Linked DNA regions of Homo sapiens: region 1 is linked to region 2. Evidence: fine-mapped expression QTL. A gene starts in region 2. The other region holds a variant in brackets. All regions are shown on one strand. Distances are from middle to middle.

Region 1 (5,371 bases), 780 kb after region 2:
AAGAGGGGCTGTCTCTCAGTCCCCGCCTCGCGGGGGGTGCCTCCCCCCCTGCGATGGGGGTCCCAAGAGCCTGGGGGGGAAGAGGGGCTGGCTCGCAGTCCCCGACTCGTGGGGGATGCCTCCCCCCCTTGCCATGGGGGATGCCTCCCCGCCTTGCCATGGGGGGATGCCTCCCCGCCTTGCCATGGGGGGATGCCTCCCCGCCTTGCCATGGGGGGATGCCTCCCCGCCTTGCCATGGGGGGATGCCTCCCCGCCTTGCCATGGGGGGATGCCTCCCCGCCTTGCCATGGGGGGATGCCTCCCCGCCTTGCCATGGGGGGATGCCTCCCCGCCTTGCCATGGGGGGATGCCTCCCCGCCTTGCCATGGGGGGATGCCTCCCCGCCTTGCCATGGGGGGATGCCTCCCCGCCTTGCCATGGGGGGATGCCTCCCCGCCTTGCCATGGGGGGATGCCTCCCCGCCTTGCCATGGGGGGATGCCTCCCCGCCTTGCCATGGGGGGATGCCTCCCCGCCTTGCCATGGGGGGATGCCTCCCCGCCTTGCCATGGGGGGATGCCTCCCCGCCTTGCCATGGGGGGATGCCTCCCCGCCTTGCCATGGGGGGATGCCTCCCCGCCTTGCCATGGGGGGATGCCTCCCCGCCTTGCCATGGGGGGATGCCTCCCCGCCTTGCCATGGGGGGATGCCTCCCCGCCTTGCCAAGAGCCAGGTTGAAAGAGGGGCTGGCTCTCAGTCCCAGCCTTGTAGGGGGTGCCTCACCCCCTGCGTTGGGTGTCTTAATAGCCAGCGGGGGGAGAGGGGCTGGCTCTCAGTCCCAGCCTCCTGGGGTGTGTCTCACCCTCCTGCGATGGGGGTCCTAATAGCCCCGGGGGGAAAGGCGCTGGCTCTCAGTCCCCGCCCCGTGGGGGGTGCTTCCCCCCCGCGATGGGGGACCTAAGAGCCAGGTGGGGAAGAGGGGCTGCCTCTCAGTCCCCGCCTCGCGGGGGGTGCCTCCCCCGCCTGCGATGGGGGTCCCAAGAGCCAGGGGGAAAGAGGGGCTTTCTCTCAGTCTCTGCCTCGCGGGGGGTGCATCCCTCCACTGCGATGGGGGTTCTAAGAGCCAGAGGGGAAGAGGGGCTGGCTCTCAGAACCTGGCTCGCGGGGGGTGCCTCCCGCCCCTGCGATGGGGGTCCCAAGAGCCCGGGGCAGAAGAGTTGCTGGCTGTCAGTCCCCGCCTCGCTGGGGGTGCCTCCCCCCATCGCGATGGGGGTCCCAAAAGCCAGTGGGGGAAGAGGGGCTGACACTCTGTCCCCGCCTCGCGGTGTGTACCTGCCCCCCCCCCCCGCCTCGCGGTGTGTACCTGCCCCCACTGCGATGGTGGTCCCAAGAGTCAGGGGGGAAGTGGGGCTGGCTCTCAATCCCCGCCTCGCATGGGGTGCCTCCCCCCCCGCGATGGGGGCCTAAGAGCGAGAGGTGAAGAGGGGCTGACTCTCAGTCCCCGCCTTGCATGGGGTACCTCTACCCCCCTGCGATGGCAGTCCTAAGAGACCCGGGGTGAAGAGGAGCTGGCTCTCAGTACCCGCCTCGCGTGGGGTGCCAAGCGCCTGCGATGGGGGTCCTATGAGCCACGGGGGGAAGAGCGGCAGGCTCTCCGTCCCTGCCTCGCGGGGGGTCCCTCTCCCCCGTGCGATGGGGGGTCCCTCCCCCCTGTGCGACGGGGGTCCTAATAGCCAGGAGGGGCAGAGGGGCTGTCTCTCAGTCCCCGCCTCATGTGGGGTGCCTCCCCCCTGTGATGGGGATCCCAAGAGCTGGGGGGAAGTGGGTCTGGCTCTCAGTTCATGCCTCACAGCGGGTGCCTCCCCCCTCTGCGTTGGTTGTTCTAAGAGCCAGGGGGGGAAAAGGGGCTTGCTCTCAGTCCCCGCCTCGCGGGGGGTGCTTCCCTCACCCGCGATCGGGCTCCTAAGAGCCACGGGGGGTAGAGGGGCTGGTTCTCAGTCCCCGCCTCGCATGGGGTGCCTCCCCCCCTTGCGATGCCTCCCCCCCTTGCGATGCCTCCCCCCCTTGCGATGCCTCCCCCCCTTGCGATGCCTCCCCCCCTTGCGATGCCTCCCCCCCTTGCGATGCCTCCCCCCCTTGCGATGCCTCCCCCCCTTGCGATGCCTCCCCCCCTTGCGATGCCTCCCCCCCTTGCGATGCCTCCCCCCCTTGCGATGCCTCCCCCCCTTGCGATGCCTCCCCCCCTTGCGATGCCTCCCCCCCTTGCGATGCCTCCCCCCCTTGCGATGCCTCCCCCCCTTGCGATGCCTCCCCCCCTTGCGATGCCTCCCCCCCTTGCGATGCCTCCCCCCCTTGCGATGCCTCCCCCCCTTGCGATGGGGGTCCGAAGAGCCGCGTGGGGGAGAGGGGCTGGCTCTCAGTCCCCACCTCGCGGGGGGTGCCTCCTCCCCCCTGCGATGGGGGTCCCAAGAGCCTGGGGGGCAAGAGGGGCTGGCTCTCAGTCCCCGCCTCGCGGGGGGTGTGTTCCCCCCTGCAATGGGGGTCTTAAGAGCCAGGGGGAAAGAGCGGCTGGCTCTCAGTCCCCGCCTCACAGGGGGTGCCTCCCCACACTGCGACGGCGGTCCGAAGAGCCTGGAGGGGGGAAGAGGGGCAGGCTCTCAGTCCCCGCCTCGCTGGGGGTGCCTCCCCCACCTGTGACGGGGGTCCTAAAAGCCAGGGGTGGAAGTGGGGCTGGCTCTCAGTCCCCGCCTCGCGAGGTGTGCCTCCCCC[A/C]CCTGCGATGGGGGTCCCAAGAGCCCGGGGCGGAAGAGTTGCTGGCTGTCAGTCCCTGCCTCGCTGGGGGTGCCTCCCCCCACTGCGATGGCTGTCCTAAGAGCCAGGGGGTGAAGAGGGGCTGGCTCTCAGTTCCCGCCTGGCGGGAGTGCCTCCCCCCCCCGCGATGGGGGTCCTAACATCCTGAGGGGGAAGAGGAGCTCTCTCTCAGTCCCCGCCTCGCTGCGGGTGCCTCCGCCCCTGCGATGGGGGTCCTAAGAACCAGGGAGGAAGAGGGGCTGGCTGTCAGTCCCCGTCTCCCGCGGCGTGCCTCCCACCCCTGCGATGGTTGTCCCAAGAGCCACGGGGGAAAGAGGGACAGACTCTCAGTCCCCGCCTCGCTTGGGGTGCCTCCCTCCCTTGCGATGGGGGTCCTAAGAGCCAGGGGGGCAACAGGGGCTGGCTCTCAGTCCCCGCCTCGCGGGAGGTGCCTCCCCACCCTGCTATGGGGGTCCTAAGAGCCGGGGGTGGGAGGGACTGGCTCTCAGTCTCCGCCTCGCGGTGGGTGCCTCCCCGCCCTGCGATGGGGATCCTAAGAGCCAGGGGGGGAAGAGGGGCTTTTCTCTAAGGATCAAAACACTGTCACCTTTAGCAGTGAAGGATCCAGTGAGATTTTCCAGGTTAACGGTCATAATCGCCTACTGGTCCAACGTTCAGAAGTAACACAGGCACCTGGACAATACACAGTAGATGTGGAAGGACACGGTTGTACATTTATCCAGGTAACAGAAATCTGCCTAAGAGGGTGATGAGTGTTTGCCAGTAAAAGAGTCAGACTGTCTGTTCAGTTCTACGTGAAGTGTTATTTGACCGTTTTGTGTATTTACATAATCAATAGCCAAAATTGCAAGTTACTTTTTGAAAAGCTACTCAGCTGTCTAAGAGAAGTTTCTTGAGGAATATTGCTATTAGAAAGTATTCTATCTTCATTAAATTACATTATTCTGAAAACTAAAGAATTTAACCTGATTCCCTGATGATAAAGATGTAAACTGCGTTAGTAATAGAAATAAACAATAGGCTCTTTCTTTTTAAAAATGTTTTAATTTTTGTGGGTACATAGTAGGTGTAAATATTTACCGGGTGCATGATACAGGCATGCAACGTGTAAGAATCACATCAGGGCAAGTGGGGTATGCTCACCTCAAGCATTTATCCATTGTGTTACCAATGATCGAAGTATACTCTTGGTTATTTTAAAATGTAAAATCACATTACTACTGACTCTAGTCAGACTGTATAATTCTTAATACAGGATGGGTTTTCTTATAATTTGCTATCCTTTCTAGGCCACCCTTAAGTACAATGTTCTCCTACCTAAGAAGGCATCTGGATTTTCTCTTTCCTTGGAAATAGTAAAGAACTACTCTTCGACTGCTTTTGACCTCACAGTGACCCTCAAGTAAGTGTCATATTTTGACAGTAACTCCCATGTGAACAAGATGGTAAAATATTTTAAAAGTTCAAACAGTAGTGAAATAACAAAATATAAATCATGGTAATATGATGAGTTCTCATGTTGGTGGTGACAATTCTACAGCACAGTCACTTTTTAGCCCTCTGTCCGGACACCACAATTTAGTACATCTTCAGCTAAATCAGAGCTAAAATGAGGCAAGAAAACATGCAGTCTATGTGAGCAGGATTTGAAAGCTTTCACTGCACTGATGTTTCAATGATACTTTTTATTCTGTTGTATGGAAGTACTCCTAGTTTTGAAAAACAGAGATTCTATATTTCTTTCTCAAGACAAGCATGCATGGTCATATAGTAGCAAGCCCACAAATGTTTCTTTTGTAACTGTAAAGAGTAACATTTTAGATTTTTACTTTTCAGAATAGAAAAACAAAATGATCCTCTTGAATTCAAGCATGATTTATAGATGCTAAAGGCTTTTAGCCTTAGTTAATATGTGGAAAACATTGAGTAAAATTAGTTTGGGAGATATTTTTTAGAATTTCTAAATAAAAATCGCTTGAGCTCCAGGGCTAAGAACTCAGTGAATTGGGGAACTCTTTTTCTTTTTTGGGTTTGTTTTTGAGACAGAGTCTTACTTTGTCACCCAGGCTGCAGTACAGTGGCACAGTGGCACAATCTCAGCTCACTGCAACTTCCACCTCCTGGGTTCAAGGGATTCTTATGGCTCAGCCTCCTGAGTAGCTGGGATTAGAGGCGTGCACCACCACACCTGGCTAATTTTTCTATTTTTAGTAGAGTCAGAGTTTTGCCATATTGGCCAGGCTGGTCTTGAACTCTGACCCTCAAGTGATCCACCCACCTTGGCCTCCAGAAGTGCTGGGATTACAGGTGTGAGCAACCATGCCCTGATGAACTATGGAACTCTCAACTTCACACCCCCATAGTCTTATCCAGAAGCAGGAAACTGAGCTAGAAGTTCTCCTGGGGACACATCTACTCTCTAATTATGCTCATATACCACCTTTTAAGCAAAGATGTCCTCTAAGTGTTATGCAACTCTAACACTAACCTAAGTATATGTAAAAGATTTAGAAGCTCTGTTTATCAGTTCAAACTTTGAGACTGCAGGTAAGCTTAAAAGCAGGGTTTGGGGAAGATTTCATG
Region 2 (5,371 bases):
CTTGGAAAAAAAAAAAAGTGACCAAATGTACACACCTATTGATGCAGACAGAATTCAAATCAAACTCTATCATAGATATGTGTTGGATGAATTAATAGCACTGGGGACAAGTTTGCTCTAACAATTCCTTGACATTGCTATGAAGTCCCTTCTACTCCCTTTACAGAAAACAAAAAAACAAACAAAACTGTCCACTCTTTCTTCTACCTGATTTTTTAGTTGACTTCCTCTTTCAAAAACCCATTCAAGGCTGGGTGCAGTGGCTCACACCTGCAATCCCACCACTTTGGGAGGCCGAGGTGGGTGGATCACTTGAGGTCAGGAGTTCGAGATCAGCCTGACCAACATGGTGAAACCCCATCTCTACTAAAAAAATACAAAATTAGCCAGGCGTGGTGGTGCATGCCTGCAATCCCTGCTACTTGGGAGGCTGAGGCAAGAGAATCGCTTGAACCCAGGAGGCGGAGGTTGCAGTCAGCCAAGATCGTGCCACTGCACTCCAGCCTGGGTAACAAGGGCAAAACTCCGTTTAAAAACAACAACAACAACAACAACAAACCATTTAAGTAAACTCAATTCTAGAAGTTGCTTCTGTCTTCTAATAACCTGAGTGATCTGATATTTCAGGAAAGCAACCACAAAGGCCCTAGAAAAGAAACAGATTTGTAACTATTGGGAGTTTATGGCGGGTAGTGAAGGGGTAAGGAGACACACATTCTCAAGACCTATCAGTTGGAAAGGATCTGTAAAAGGATTAATGGCCAGCCTTTGCAGGTAACATTTGAGAAACCCGTGTTTGTGTTTTCATTGGAAAGAAATGGCCACTAACGATGAAAAAGCGTGTGTTTCCTCTACGCAACCATGGTACTTTCTTTCACTTTCTTCACTAAAGGTAAGAGAAGCCTAAAGTGCTCAGCAGAGAAAATGCTACTTTTCAGGCTTGTTGCAAAGAGAAAAGAAAGGAAAAATGAAGGGAAGACAAGGCAAAGGGAGTGAAGAGGAAGCAAAAAGAAAATATAAGAAAAAATGGATTTTCAGATACCACTTTAACTGTTCTATTAGCAAAAAAAAAAAAAAAACAAACCATACAGCCCACTCTGTACGGGGGCCATACGGGAATCTGAGACTATCCAGTTTTCTTCATTTGCTCTCCTTCTTGCTAGATGGCATAGCTCTATAAACTTCCCTGTGACAATTGTTTAGAATCCCTCAGTCCAGTGACCCTTTTCTCCACTAATGGATTACTCAGAGACTTCTGATTCATTGTGGGGCCCAAAATATTTTAAAAGAGCCCTGCCTCTCTTATTTCTAGACTAGAGGCACCTAAACTGCTAGAACAGGATTAGAAATTCCTGGATGGGAAATTCCGTTTAGGGGAATTACACACCTAGTTTTCATAATTTGTTTGGAATTTTGAGGGATGGGTGATAAGATGCTAAAAGAGATAAAATACTTCAGCGGCACTTCTAAAGTGCCACGGCAATCCTGCTCGTTTCCATGCTCACTCTAATTTCTGTCCCCCTTTTCATTGTCATTGCCATCAGTCACACATGCATCTATGCAATCTCGTAATACTAAGGAAACTTTGTAGTTTATTCATTTCCCTATGACCCCCTGGGTTCTGTATATGTCTCCCCACCCCGCAGTTCATTTCCTTTCAGACTCTTCTGAGAGTTGATTAATCTGGGGAAAAATACTCTTTCTGCCTTTTCACCACTGAACTCACCAGGATGAAATACAGCAGGGCTGAGGCCGCCACGACATGAACTCGGACTCCCATCGGGCTGAATTCCTGCTTCTTCAGAATCTTGCACTGGGCATCCGTTGCCTCCTTTCAATGCTCTGTGCCATATTTTACTTCTTGACCTAGAATTCTTAAGAAGAGAAACTTTTCTCAGGAATTTATCAGCTTTTCTCTCTCTCGTTCTCTCTGTCTCCTCCTACTCGCTCTGGCTGTTATTTTCTATGGCTTTTCCCTCTTCTTTCCTGTTTTTCTTCTTTATTCTTATTACTATTTCTATGGCCTCCACATTTACTTCCTTTTGCCTTCTTTCTTTCCGTTACACTATTAATTCTTTCTACATCTTGAAGTTTCTTTCTCCTACTGCTCCCAAAAAGGAGACATTCAAAGAGGACATATGTGTCCTCTGAATGAAGTATTTTTCTAGACAGCGATGAAAAACTTGGCTTTGAGGATGGTCAAAGGCAGATTGCTGGTGACCAAATATATTCCTTTCTTCATCAGAAAACTGGTAATATTCTTGATCCTTCACCAGAGTACTCCAGCGTGACTGTTGCAGGGTGAAAGTCACCCTGCTAATCTCCTTTCTTCTCTCTCCGTGTGACTAACAACCCCTTCTTGCTCTTTGAAACCCTCCCCTTCACTATGTTGATAATCAACTCTCCTGGTTCTGGGTCATTTATATCCCTAAGCATTGGGGTAAGACTGAGAGGTTGCCAAGTGAACAGGAAAGCCATCTCATCTTTGGAGAAAACAGACTTGAAGATGAGAAATCAAGTCGGAAGATTAGAATTTTCAGGTGTTATCAGTGACATCTTCCTCCTCCCTGACTTCACTTCCCATTGAAATAGATAACTGAGAAAGACATTTTTTTAAAACCAAATTTTAAAAAAGCAAATGTATAGGTTTCTTTCTTTCTTGCCTTTTCTTTGTTCCTTCTTTCTCTCTCTTTCTCTCTCTCTCTCTCTCTTTGGTTAAGGAGTGATGTGATTGAGAAATAAGTCTTGTCACTCAGGAAAATAAAACCTAAGGTTAGAGTAAAAACAAGCACACATGCAAAAGCATAGAATACTTTTTTTTTTTTTTTTTTTGAGACGGAGTCTTGCTCTGTCACCCAGGCTGGAGTGCAGTGGCGCAATCTCGGCTCACTGCAAACTCTGCCTCCTGGGTTCATGCCATTCTCCTGCCTCAGCCTCCCGAGTAGCTGGGAATACTGGCGCCCACCACCACGCCCGGCTAAGTTTTTTTGTATTTTTAGTAGAGACGAGACGGGGTTTCACCATGTTAACCAGAATGGTCTCGATCTCCTGACCTCATGATCCGCCCGACTCGGCCTCCCAAAGTGCTGGGATTACAGGCGTGAGCCACCGTGCCTGGCCTAGAATACTTACAATGAAACAAAGCTATAGACACAAATGTGGCCGGGTGCCATGGCTCATGCCTGTAATCCCAGCACTTTGGGAGGCCAAGGCGGGCTGATAACTTCGGCCAGGAGTTTGAGACCAGCCTGGAGAACATGATGAAACCCTTTCTCTACGAAACATACAAAAATTAGCTGTGTGTCATGGCAGGCACCTGTAATCCCAACTACTTGGGAGGCTGAAGCAGGAGGGCCACTTGAACCCGGAAGGCAGAAGTTGCAGTGAGCCGAGATCACACCACTGCACTCCAGCCTGGGTGATAGAGCGAGAATCTGCCTCAAAAAAGCAAAATATTAAAAGAAACAAAAGAATGCTGTATGAATGATTTATACTTAAGTAGGTGATCTTTTACTTAATACCAAATGTTTAATAAAAAAATTATTATTATTATTATTATTATTATTATTATTATTATTATTATTATTTGAGACAGAGTCTCTCTGTCACCAGGCTGGAGGGCAGTGGTGCAATCTCGGCTCACTGCAACCTCTGCCTCCTGGGTTCAAGCAATTCTCCTGCCTCAGCCTCCTGAGTAGCTGGGATTATAGACACCTGCCACGACACCCAGCTAACTTTTCTATTTTCAGTAGAGACAAGGTTTTACCATATTGGCCAGGCTGGGATAAGAAAAGTAGAAGTTAGTTTACAGTGATATATCTATCTCATAAGAATTGAATAAAACCTCCTTTCAGGACCTTTCTAGCTCAGTAAATCTAATTATGCTGAGTGATTGTGGAAGGGAGACTCTTGGGTGAGCTGATCATACTCTAAGGGTCCTCACACATAGCTTGATGATGGGATATGAGAATGCAGGATATAAACTGGTTTTGTTCTCAGCTAAGGAAAACAAATAATGAGAAAATGGCCTGGTACCATACTGGTGATTTAAAATCTGTCAGTTTCAAGACGAAATGAGCACTGACAGTCTTTTATTTTTTATTTTTTTAAATTAGGCAACTGGGGTTAGGATGAAGGGTGATTTCCAGATTTCAGTAGAAGACTTGGCAAGGTGGAAGGTATTTTATAGGACAAGGAGAGCAGGGCTTTAGGTGGCCTTCCACTAAATTATTATGTAATTCCTCCAGTCCTTAACGTTCCCATTCATACAACAGGAGCAGAATACCCACTTGACCTGCTTTAGATGTTATTTCCTAGAGAAAATAAAATAAGAGACAGGAAAGCATTTTGAATAGGATATTTCTATCATGAGTGCCCTGTACGTAGGGAACCCATCATGAAACTTTCCCTTCTCTTTTTCTTGACAGAAAGACAGTAGAGCACCAAGACCTAAAGCCTAGCCAGGATACCTGGGTTTAAATACTTGGTTTTGTCACTTATGAGCTGTGTGATCTTGGAGCAGGTTATTAGACCTCTATTGGCTCATTTTCATTTTATATAAAATGGGGGTAATAGTAGTAATATTTACTTGATAGCCTTATACAGATTAAATAAGTTAATGTGTGTAAAATGAATATAACAGTCCTGATATTTTTTGTGTTTGCTAAGATTATTTTGATTTTCACTAAAGTTTACCAGTGACCTTTACTTTCAAGATTCTGGATAATTACTGTCCTTTATGCTTCTCTTGTATATTTTTATACCATTCCCTCTCCAGACCACATTTTAGTCTCCTGATATTCTAATTCTTGAATATTTTTCCTTGCTAGCCTGGCCACCTTTTCTCCCAACCACGCCAGCCTTCACCTGCCTAAACAGGTTTGCTGGTTAACATGACTCCCCGCTCGCATTGCACTTTTCTAACACGTAATTGCCATCATCTTTTTGCCCTCCAGCTTCCAAACAGGTTTGAACAAAATAGGTTCTGTTAATGACCTCCTTGTGACTTTCCTTTCTTAGAATTATTACTACCCTTTTTTTTTTTCTCACCAGATTAGTCCCTGGAAAGATAAAAGTTTGTTTTTATCCTAATGAATGAGATTATGCCTTGGGGCAGCTTTAACTCTGAATCCTGTCCCTAACCAAGCCTCCATATAGGGAATGATGAAAGAAGAAAGATAATTCAGACAAGAAGACTGAACGAAGTACACTTTGGACAGGTACAGAAGGGCAGGTAGCTGGGATAGAGGGAAATGGTCTCATTACAATCCTATACAATCTTGTGCAGTTCCATTAAGCTTGTGAATCATTAGCTTATGTCCAGGTAGTTAAGGACTTGGAGTGGAACCAGTAGAGGGTGCATGTACATAGA

Alleles and levels. Positions count from the first base shown, and alleles are read on the strand shown. Sizes are in standard deviations (SD) of each study's normalised expression.
For the expression in macrophages of the gene that starts at base 2,323 in region 2, C is the low allele of the variant in region 1 and A is the other (large effect, 1.5 SD a copy in Alasoo 2018).

The links. PIP is the estimated chance that this variant, and not a neighbour inherited with it, causes the effect.
Region 1: its variant is fine-mapped to the expression of TMEM52B in macrophages (Alasoo 2018, PIP 0.95).

Annotation. Positions count from the first base shown.
Region 1 is chr12:9,400,566-9,405,936 of GRCh38, reverse strand. It overlaps LOC728715 (ovostatin homolog 2), which reads left to right. Exons shown (of 9, transcript NR_144634.1): 3 at 3,384-3,510; 4 at 4,078-4,190. Among named protein-coding and RNA genes, the nearest start is that of LINC02367, 36 kb to the right of the region's middle. RefSeq lists an enhancer at 2,378-3,019. The variant A/C (reference allele first, on the strand shown) is at 2,750.
Region 2 is chr12:10,175,984-10,181,354 of GRCh38, reverse strand. It overlaps TMEM52B (transmembrane protein 52B), which reads right to left and starts at 2,323. Exons shown (of 5, transcript NM_001384896.1): 1 at 1,727-2,323. The coding sequence starts at 1,780. It also overlaps a transcript of OLR1 not described here. RefSeq lists an enhancer at 766-1,965.